Linked DNA regions of Homo sapiens: region 2 is linked to region 1. Evidence: fine-mapped expression QTL. A gene starts in region 1. The other region holds a variant in brackets. All regions are shown on one strand. Distances are between the middles of the regions. Region 1 holds the start of EHMT1 (euchromatic histone lysine methyltransferase 1). Region 2 overlaps EHMT1 (euchromatic histone lysine methyltransferase 1).

Evidence for each region. PIP is the estimated chance that this variant, and not a neighbour inherited with it, causes the effect.
Region 2: its variant is the best candidate, but not a certain one, in a credible set for the expression of EHMT1 in whole blood (INTERVAL, PIP 0.56).

Annotation. Positions count from the first base shown.
Region 1 is chr9:137,616,443-137,621,631 of GRCh38, reverse strand. It overlaps EHMT1 (euchromatic histone lysine methyltransferase 1), which reads right to left and starts at 2,627. Exons shown (of 27, transcript NM_024757.5): 1 at 2,583-2,627. The coding sequence starts at 2,603. ARRDC1-AS1 (ARRDC1 antisense RNA 1) reads left to right here and starts at 2,737. Exons shown (of 3, transcript NR_122035.1): 1 at 2,737-3,101; 2 at 3,441-3,698. RefSeq lists enhancers at 1,501-2,219, 2,885-2,934 and a silencer at 2,545-2,844.
Region 2 is chr9:137,638,136-137,643,324 of GRCh38, reverse strand. All of the region lies in intron 1 of EHMT1 (euchromatic histone lysine methyltransferase 1), which reads right to left. It also overlaps the pseudogene SETP5. Among named protein-coding and RNA genes, the nearest start is that of EHMT1, 22 kb to the right of the region's middle. The variant C/T (reference allele first, on the strand shown) is at 3,193.

The DNA.
Region 1 (5,189 bases):
TTTTTCTTTTTTTTTTCCTGAGACAGTCTCTCACTCCGTTGCCCAGGCTGCAATTACAGGCACACACCACTATGCCCAGATAATTTTTGTATTTTCAGTAGAGACAGGGTTTCAACCATGTTGGCCAGACTGGTCTCGAACTCCTGACCTCAAGTGATCCGCCCACCTCGGCTTCCTAAACTGCTAGGATTACAGGCATGAGCCACCACGGCTGGCCAGTTCTTTTTGGTAGGAAAATGTATTGACTATCTTTGTAAATCAAGGAAAAGAAATGAAGTTAGATAAGTTTCCAGTGTCAGCTTTATTACTTTAATCATTTGGCAATTAATGAACCCTGACCCAGGAATCATTTCCCAGGTTTAGTGACAACAGTGATCACATGCCTACCTACTGTCCAGAAGGCCAGAGTTGCTGCGCTACACACAGGGGCTCCCTCACCTTCTCATACACCTTGATGATAAACCCTTAGAATTATCAATCTAAAAACAGAGCTTTTATTAACCTAAAATGACCATCACAGATATAACACATTTAGCAAGCATCAGCTCTATGGCCAAACCACCTGCAACTCCATCTTCTTGGCCACAAGCTCTTCAATCTTGGGCCTCACTGCGCCTGTCTTCTCATTTATAAACGGGGAGGTAACAGTACCTACCTCTTAAGGTTGCTGCTAGGCTCAAATTATTGAATTCATGCAAGGCACTGGCACTATGGCAGGGTTGGACACAAGTCAGGGCTCAGTCAACACAGGCTGTCATTCTCATCAGGTGTGTAAAGCCCTATTCAAGGCTGCCTATGGAACCAGAGACATCTGGAGCCATTTGCTCATCGGTCATGTATTAAACACCTACTACGTGCCCAACACTGTACTAGTGCTGGTCCTACAACCGACTGGCCAAGTTATCTAACCCTTCCTCCTCAGCTAAACAGGAAACAACAGGACGGGCACAATGGCTCATGTCTGTAATCCTAGCACTTAGGGAGGCGGAGGCAGGCAGATCGCTGGAGTCCAAAAGTTCAAGACCAGCCTGGGCAACATGGTGAAACCCCGGTCTCTACCAAAAAAATACAAAAAAATTGGCCAGGTGTGGCAGCACCCGAGGTGGGAGACTCCTTTGAGCCTGGGTGGTCGAAGCTGCAGTGAGCAGTGATCATGCCTCTGCATTCCAGCCTGAGTGACAAAGGGAGATCCTGTCTCAAAAAATAATAATAATAAATAATAATTTAAAAAAGGAAATAACAGCACCTGCTGCACAGGGTGAAGAAAACCGAGGGAGGCGCCTGATCTAAAGGTCTTGCACAGTGTGTGGGATCCAGTGGGTACTTCATAAATGATAGAATTCATCACTACACGTCTTCTCCCCTACAAGCCTAGAAGTGACTTGAAATTTTCTAATTTCGCTTTTTGTTCTCAGTGACTAATATTAATTCCTTGAATGCTGCAGATACTCAGCAAAAACTCCTTGCATTGAATTTAAGAATTCCCCTGCACCTTCCCAGTTTACTTATTTCAACACCCCCCAAAAATGCAGGAAAAAAATAAACAAAAAGGCCATACATTACCTGAGTTAAAATACAGTGTTAAGTCTATGCACCAGGATACTGTACGGCTTCTTACTACACCTTAACTTTCTAAGCTTTAGAAGTCTCAACTGTTACTAGACAGTTAATTTCAAAGAAATACTTCTACGCTGACAGTTTTCTCCAAACCGGTCCCTTATCTCAGCCCTAGGACCACACTATTTCTGCATCTCCACGGACACACCACCTCCTGCTTGCTTTTCCTTCAGAGGGACGCCAGTGGTCCACTCGCAAGACTTTAATCTCTACGCTGCTTCCTTTCCTAAGCAAGGAAACAAACTATCCTTGAGAATGAGCACGGGGAAGGCCGAGACCATTAACAAAAGAATGTGAACTTTTTACATCGAGAGCCCTTTAAAGCTGCTGGTTTGGAAATAAACTTGAGTCCGCAAGCTTCCCACCGAGCGTGCTTTCCTGCTTCTGACAGCCAGCAGGGCTGGAGCAGCATTGTCTGGGGAGAAACACGCCGGGACTGGCCAACTTTTCGTTAAAGATGGTGCCATCCTACTCAGAACAAAGTGAAAGGTCAACGAAGCGAAGGAAGAGCTCCGAGAGGAGGGACAGCCTCGCCTCGGCCGGCGCTCCAAAGTTGGCCGGCCCCGCTACTTTTCCTTTTGTCCTCCGCACCTCCCCGGCACCCTGGCCGAGGCCCTCCCCGCAGATCCGGCTTGCGGGCGGCGGCGGCGGCACGGGGTCCGTGGGGGGCGCGGGCACAGGTACGCGGTCGCCTCCCTCACCTGCGCCCCCGCCCGCTCCCCCAGCCGCCGCCCGGCCCGCGCCGCGCACAAAGCGCGCCCGGCGGGAGCGCGGGCCGGACGCCCGGCGGCCTCGGCCCGGCCTCGGCCTGAGGCGGCGGCAGCGGCGGCGGCGGCGGCGGGGGGACCCGGGGCCCCGCCCGCCCGCCGGCCGCCTGCCGCCGCCCCGCCCGGTTCTTCGCCCCCGCGCCGCCTCCGCCGCTGCCCGCCGCCCCCGCGCCGCCCCCCGCCGGCCCCGCTGCTCACCTCGGCATCGGCGGCGGCCATGGCCCGGGCCCGCAGCGTGGCCCCGCCCCTCCCGCGCGCCATCGCCCCGCCCGCGCCTCGCGGCCCAGAGTCGGGGCGGGGCCGATCGCCTACGTCTGCGCCTGCGCCTGCGCCCGCGCCTGCGCGTTGGAGCTCGACCGGTGCGGCGCCTGCGCACTGGAACCAGGCGTGCGGCGCCCCAGGCGCCGGGCCTGCGGCGGCCGGAACCGGAACGCGCGCCCGCGGGGTAGGAGACCTGGAGCTGGAGAACCCGCCCGCCAGAGTCGTAGTAGTGGATGGGGAGTAGCCGTCCCATTTTCAACACATGTCTCATTCTAAATTGACGTTTTGGTGGGCTGGCCGAAGAAGGAGAAAGACCCGCGGCTCCGACCTCTGACCTCTAACCCCGGACGCACTTTGATTTCGCCGGCTTGCGCGGAAGGCTGACTCCCTGGGCCGCGGCCTGGCGCGGGAGCCGCCTGTGGGGTGTCCCCGGCGCGGGAGGGTGCTCTGGTTCAGGCAGGTTCCCGTTGCGGCGGGGTTCCCTCGGTTGGGAGGAATGCCCCTGCCGAGGGTATGCTCCGGCTGGAGGGGGTGTCCCTAACGGCGGGAATACCTGGACTGGCTGGGGTGTCCCACTGGGGAGGGTTTCCCGGTGGGGAGGTGTCTGGCGGGGGAGCGGCTCCGGCTAAGCATGGGTGTTCTGCTAGGAGGATGTGTCTGGCTGGGGGCGGTGTCCCAATCGGGAGGGTTGCCCTGATGGGGGAGGTTCTACAGTTGTGGAGATGCCAACCTGGGGGGCGCTCCGGTTGGGGGGTGTGCCCTCTCTGGTTACCCCGCTCTCGCTGCCACTCATAGGCCCGCTGCCCAGGTATGCACAAGTCAAGGCCTTTTCTGCAGACCAAGTAGCCTTCCCTGGAGAGCGCCCCCAGCACCACGGAAACTACCTACATGCCCCGCGGTGGTCAGCCCGCCTTATCCCAGCCCCGAGACCCAAAACAAGAAGCATGGACTGAATTTGAGGTTTCTGGATGGTCGTGTGAACCGAGGGGACGGGTACTGGACTGACAAGAAATGAGCCTTGAAGGTCAATCTGGGTGACACCCGAGTCTCCTGGTGAGTCGGACTCCGGAGAATTATCTCAAGTCCAGCATAGACAGCGCACATAGACAGAAAAGGAAACGGACAATCCCAAGTGCCAAGGGAACCTTCCCAGGTTTCTTTAGGGCAGCTAAACTGCTCTGTCAAAGCCTAAGTCCATTTATGACAGGCCGAGCACCCTGAGCCCTCGCAGGAGACACGAGCGCCTTCATGGCCCTCCTGCCCCGCACCCACCTCTCCGCCACCCCTGCTGTCTGTCCCTTCCCTGAAACCTTTATTTCGAGTGTCTTTGTGGCTTCCCTCTTTACCATCCTTGAGTTGAAATATCACCTCTTAAGGGAAGCCTTCCCTCTCCTCCCTAGTTAAAATGATACTGCCCCCCCATACCTGTCTTCGTTGACTTACTTGGCTCCATCACAGTGTGTGTCATGTGACTCTCCCACATCCTGATTTGGAATATTGTCTCCCTACTAGAATGTAAGTCCATGGTGCCTAGAACAATACCTGGTGTACAGGAGACAAAATATTTGTTGACTGGGCCGGGTGCGGTGGCTCACGCCTGTAATCCCAGCACTTTGGGAGGCCGAGGTGGGCAGATCATGAGGTCAGGAGATGGAGACCAGCCTGGCTAACATGGTGAAACCCCATCTCTACTAAAAATACAAAAAATAGCCGGGAGTGGTGCTGGGCGCCTGTAGTCCCAGCTACTCGGGAGGCTGAGGCAGGAGAATGGCATGAACCCGGGAGGCAGAGCTTGCAATGAGCTGAGATTGTGCCACTGCACTCCAGCCTGGGCAACAGAGCAAGACTCTGTCTCAACAACAACAACAAAAAAATTGTTGACTGAATAAAGGGAGTTAGAATGTGAAGAAAAATCCTTCACCAAGCAAACATCCACCCTAAGTGAAGGTGTGGGAAGCAGCTGCAGGCAGCTTTTTCACTCCATTTTTCCATCAGCTGCTACCCTTGTGTGCCCCTCAGCACTTATGTCAAGATGCTGCTCTCAGCACGTGACATGCTAACACTGCAGACTTCAGGTCAGTCCTGAGAGGCAGGCACTGTTCTTACCCACATTTTATAAGTGACTGAACTGAAGCAAGGGAGTGGTGAGAGGCAGTGATGGGATTCAGCCCAGGAGGCCTTCCTTTCAACCATATACTGCACTGCTTCCAGGAGGCGCTTCACAGATGACCCCACCTGTGGTACACTTTCTGCTGTTCTCCAATATTCATGCTGCCTGTCCCACAATTAGTAAAATTTTAGCCAAGTACAGGACTGCCTGGCTAAAGACCACATTTCCAACAGGAAGGGGACAGGTCAGAGACAAAAAGTGACAATCCATTTCCCAGTCTGTCCCTCAAAAGTCCCACCATTAGGCTGGGCAGTGGTGAAAGCTGTCAACAGCCATCTGGGAGCCAGGGATGGGAACCACTATGTAGGAATGACAACTCTGCCACAAGGCCAGGATCTGCCCCCTCTGGACTGTTCAAGAAATAAACTGTCATG
Region 2 (5,189 bases), 22 kb before region 1:
AACTACCTTCATAAAGGAAAAATAAAACATTCCAAGATAAACAAAAGTAGAGAGTTCATCACTGAAAGACCTAAGAGTCCTTCAGGATAAATGAAAGGACACTAGACAGTAACTCAAGCCCACATGAATAGAGAGCACCAAGGCCAGGCACGGTGGCTCATGCCTGCAACCGCAACACCTTGGAAGACTCAAGTAGGAGGGATCTTCTAAGACCAGGAGTTGGAGACCAGCCTGGGCAACACAGTGAGACCCCATCTCTACAAAAAAAAAATTAAAAATCAGCAGGGAATAGTGGCACGCACCCATAGTCCCAACTACTCGGGAGGCTGAGGCAGGAGGATCTCTTTAGCCCAGGAGGTCAAGGCTGCAGTGCTATGATTGTGCCACTGTACTCCCACCTGGGTGACAGAGCGAGACCCTGTCAAGAGGGGAGGGGAGGGGAATGCAATCAAGAGCGCCAGTAAAAGCAGCTACACAGGTAAAGTATAAAAGCAGCTACATAAGACAGTATAAATGTATTTGTTAATTTATAATTTGTTTTTTCTCCTATATGATTTGAAAGACAATTGCGTAAAGCAGCAACTATAAATCTGCGTAGATGGGCACACAGTGTAATGTAATTTGTATGACAATAACAGTACAAGAAGGGCAAAAGAAATTAAGCTATGCCCAAATAAATATTTCATATAGTATTGTAATATAGTATTAATACAAACTACATTATCAAAAATTAATATACTAAATTGTAATCCCCAGGACAACCAAGAAAACAAATAAAAAATACAGTCAAATAAACAGCAAGGGAATTAAAATGGTATACACTAGAAAATATCTAACACAAAAGAAGAAAGCAATGAGTCAGGCGTTGTGGTACGCCTGCAGTCCCAGCTACTCAGGAGGCTGAGGTGGGAGGATCCTGTGAGCCCGGGAGTTCAAGGCCACGGTGCACTATGATCATGCCTATGAATACTCACTGCGCTCCAGCCTGGGCAACATAGTGAAACTCCATCTCCATGAAGAACAAAAACTAACTGAGGCAGAAAGTAACAAAAAAGACAGAAGACGCAGAAAGCAAATACAAAATCGACAAGTATAAACCCTACCTTTCAGTAATTACATTAGATGAAACGCATTACCTGTCCCACATGAAAAGTAGAGACTGGGGGAATAGATTAAAAAATTTGGGGCCGGGCGCAGTGGCTCACACCTGTAATCCCAGCACTTTGGGAGGCCGAGGCGGGTGGATCACCTGAGGTCAGGAGTTCAGGACCAGCTTGGCCAACTTGACGAAACTCCGTCTCTACTAAAAATACAAAAATTAGCCAGGCATGGTGGTGGGTGCCTGTAGTCCCAGCTACTCAGGAGGCTGAGGCAGGAGAACAGCTTGAACCATGGAGTTGGAGGGCATGGGGGCAGAGGTTGCCATGAGCCAAGGTCATGCCACTGTACTCCAGCCTGGGTGACAGAGCGAGACTCCATGTCAAAAAAAAAAAAAATGTGATCTTAGTCCTATGAGCTTCTTCCTGATGAGCAAGGAGGCCCTTGGGTCCAGACTCTCCTCCCGGAATGACCCCCAAACACCCGTCTCTGCCCCTGCCTGAAAGGAAGACATGGCGCCAGCCCCTGACAGAGGCCAGAGGAAGAGAGGAACAGAACAAGCGGCAACCAAGCCCACGAGGAAGCACAGCACAAAACAGGCTTCAGAAACAGGCTTAGCAAGTGAGCGGCAAGCGGACTGGGAGAGCGAACATAGACAAATTCGGCCAACCACGTTCTTCAGGGCAGATGAGAATTGATTCCCAAAATCCCCAATTTCTGGGTAATAACATTTGTCAGCCATCCACAAGCGTCTGCACTGCTTGGGAGGAGGATGAAGAGGCACTGCATTGTTTGACCAGTGCTGAAGTGACAGAATTTGAAGATATTAAATCAGGTTACAGAATAGGTTTTTATTTTGACGAAAATCCTTACTTCAAAAATAAAGCTCTCTCAAAGAATTTCATCTGAATGAGAGTCATGATCCATCTTCAAAGTCCACGGAAATCAAATGGAAATCTGGAAAGGAAACTCTTCAAGTCAAATGCAGAATAAAGCCAGTAGGAAGAGGCATCCTGAGGAACCAGACAGGTTCTTCACCTGGTTTACTGGCCATTCTGACGCAGGTGCAGATGAGTTAGGAGAGGTCAGCAAAGACCATACTTGGCCAAATTCATCACAGTGCTCCTTGGTTCCCAATATGGATGATAAAGAAGGAGAAGACGAAGATGATGAGGAGGAGGAACTGGAAGACACTGATGAGGAACGGGATAAGGAGAAGATAACTAATAGAACACACATGGATTAGAACCTTCCTTTTTTAAAGCTGTCTCCAGTTCCCGGGAGCAAGGTGCAGTCTTGCTTTTTCCCTCTTGTGCTCACCCAGTTCTTGAGGTCTCTTTTGTCTACACCGTGGATCTCAACTTATCTGGGGGGGAAATACCTTGAGGAGAATAAAATGTGAAAAGAATCTCTACCTCTTTCTGTTTCAAACTCATTTTTATCCCTTCCTATCTCAACAAACTTGTATGGAATCAACATCACCATGTTCTATGGAAAAAAGAACAACTTTCTGCCCCCTTTGCACTGTTGGAAGCTAAAGGGCGCCAGGCCCCTATAATGCAGAGAATTCTAGCATTTTTTCCTTCTCTGCATATTGGGCTCAGAGAAAACATGTATCTACTTGCTCTTGATTAAAAAAAGAAAATTTCAGACCAGGCACAGGGGTGCACACCTGTAATCCTAGCACTTTGGGAGACCAAGATGGGAGGATCACTTGAGGCCAGGAGTTCAAAACCAGCCTGAGCAACATAGGAAGACCCCATCTTTACAAAAAATTTAAAAATTAGCTGGACATAGTGGCAGATGCCAGTGGTCCCAGCTGATCAGGAAGCCAAGGTGGGAGGACTGCTTGAGCCCAGGGTCAAGGCTGCAGTGAGCTATGATCACGCCACTGCACTCCAGCCAGGGTAACAGCAAGACCAGGTCTCTAAAACACACAAAAATAAAACAAAACAAAAATTAAAATTAAAAGCTTTAAAAAATAAGGTTACAGGCCAGGCACGGTGGCTCACACCCGTAATCCCAGCACTTTGGGAGGCCGAGGCAGGCGGATCACCTGAGTTCAGGAGTTCAAGAACAGCCTGGCCAACACAG[C/T]GAAACCCCATCTCTACTAAAAATATAAAACTTAGCCGGGCACAGTGGCACATGCCTGTAATCCTAGCTACTCGGGAGGCAGAGGCAGGACAATCACTCGAACCCGGGAGGCAGAGGTTACGGTGAGCCAAGATCGCGCCATTGCACTCCAGCCTGGGCAACAAGAGCGAGACTCCGTCTCTAAATAAATAAGGTTACAGAAGGCCAGCAAAGGGTGGGTCTCAAATGTCTGGTGGGTTGAGTGGGCATTCTGATATCACAGCTCCTCCTCTGGCTGATTAATGGGGAGGTACAACAGACATCCTTGCAGTCTAAGGTGACACTTTAAAAATAAAATCTCTTCTATCAGGTAAGAAAAATACATATATATGATTCAACTGCTGAATCTACAAGATCCGATCTCAGATGGAAAGGACTGTAAGAGACATCCCTTCGATTGAAGATACAAAGAGATTAAAAGGCCAGAAAAAGATATAGTATGCAAAAATAAACCATAAAAAAACTGAAGTGGCTATACTGACATCAGACAAAATAGACTTTAAAACAAAAACATTTATAGAGACAAAGAGGGACATTTCATAATGAGAGAAGTGTCAAAACACCCAGGCAGATGTAACAACTATAAACACACGCAAGATAACATAGTCTCAAAACACGAGGCAAAAACCAACAGAACTGAAAGTGAAAATGTAAAATTCGACAGTACTGTAGATCTCATACTCTACTCTCAATAACTAATAGAACTAGAAAGAAAATGAGAAAGAATAAGGAAGACTTAATACTATCAACCAATTCAATCTGACATATAGGGAACATTCCACCTAATAAATTCATAATGCACATTATTTTCAAGCACTGATGAAACATTCCCCAGGACAGAATATAATACGGGATTTTTTTTTTAATCTAACAAATTAAACACACTGAAACTATACAAAGTATAATTCTGACCATACAGGAATTACATTAGAAATCAACAAAACAAAGAAATCCAGGAAATACCTAAATATTTAGAAATTAAATGACACACTTCTAAAGTCACAAGGGAAAATAGAAAATATTCTGAACTGAATAAAAATGAAAATACAACATATCAACATTTATAGGAAGCAGCCTGTTTTTTCCTAGGACACATGTAACAATAGAAATGTATGGTCTCGAAGTTCTGAAGGCTGGAAGTCCACAATGAAGGTGTCAGTAGGCCTTGTGGTCTGTAATGGCTTTGGAGTGCCATCCCCTGCCTCGGCCAGGCTCTGGGGTCTGCTGGCCGTCCCTGACACTCCTTGGCTTATGGAAGCATCACCCCAGTCATGCGCCACTTCTCCCTGTGTGTCCGCATGCTGTCTTCCTTCTGTGCATGTCTGTGTTCACAAGGCATCCTTTTTTTTTTATGAGGACACGTAAGTCATACTGGATTAGAGGCCTACCCTACTCAACTATGATTTCATCTTAACTAATCTGCAATGACCCTATTTCCAAATAAGGTCAAATTCTGAAGTATGGGGTTTAGGACTTCAACATATTTTTTAGGGGAATGCAATTTATTCTATAACATAGCTAAAAGCATTAAGAAACTAGTAAAAAACTAGGCCGGGTGCAGTGGCTCATGCCTGCAATCCCAACACTTTGGGAGGCCAAGGCGGGTGGATCATTTGAAGTCAGGAGTTTGAGACCACCTCGGCCAACATGGTGAGACATCATCTCTACTAAAAATACAAAAATTAGCCGGGCGTGGTGGCGGGTGCCTGTAATCTCAGCTACTTGGGAGGCTGAGGTGGGTGGATCACCTGAGGTCAGGAGCGCGAGACCAGCACAGCCAACATGGTGAAACTCCGTCTCCTAAAAATGCAAAAAATTAGCTGGGCATGGTGGCGCACGCCTATATTCCCAACTATTCAGGAGGCAGAGGCAGGAGAATTGCTTGAACCCAGGAGGCGGAGCTTGCAGTGAGCCGAGATCGCACCACTGCACTCCAGCCTGGGCAAAAGGGCGAGACT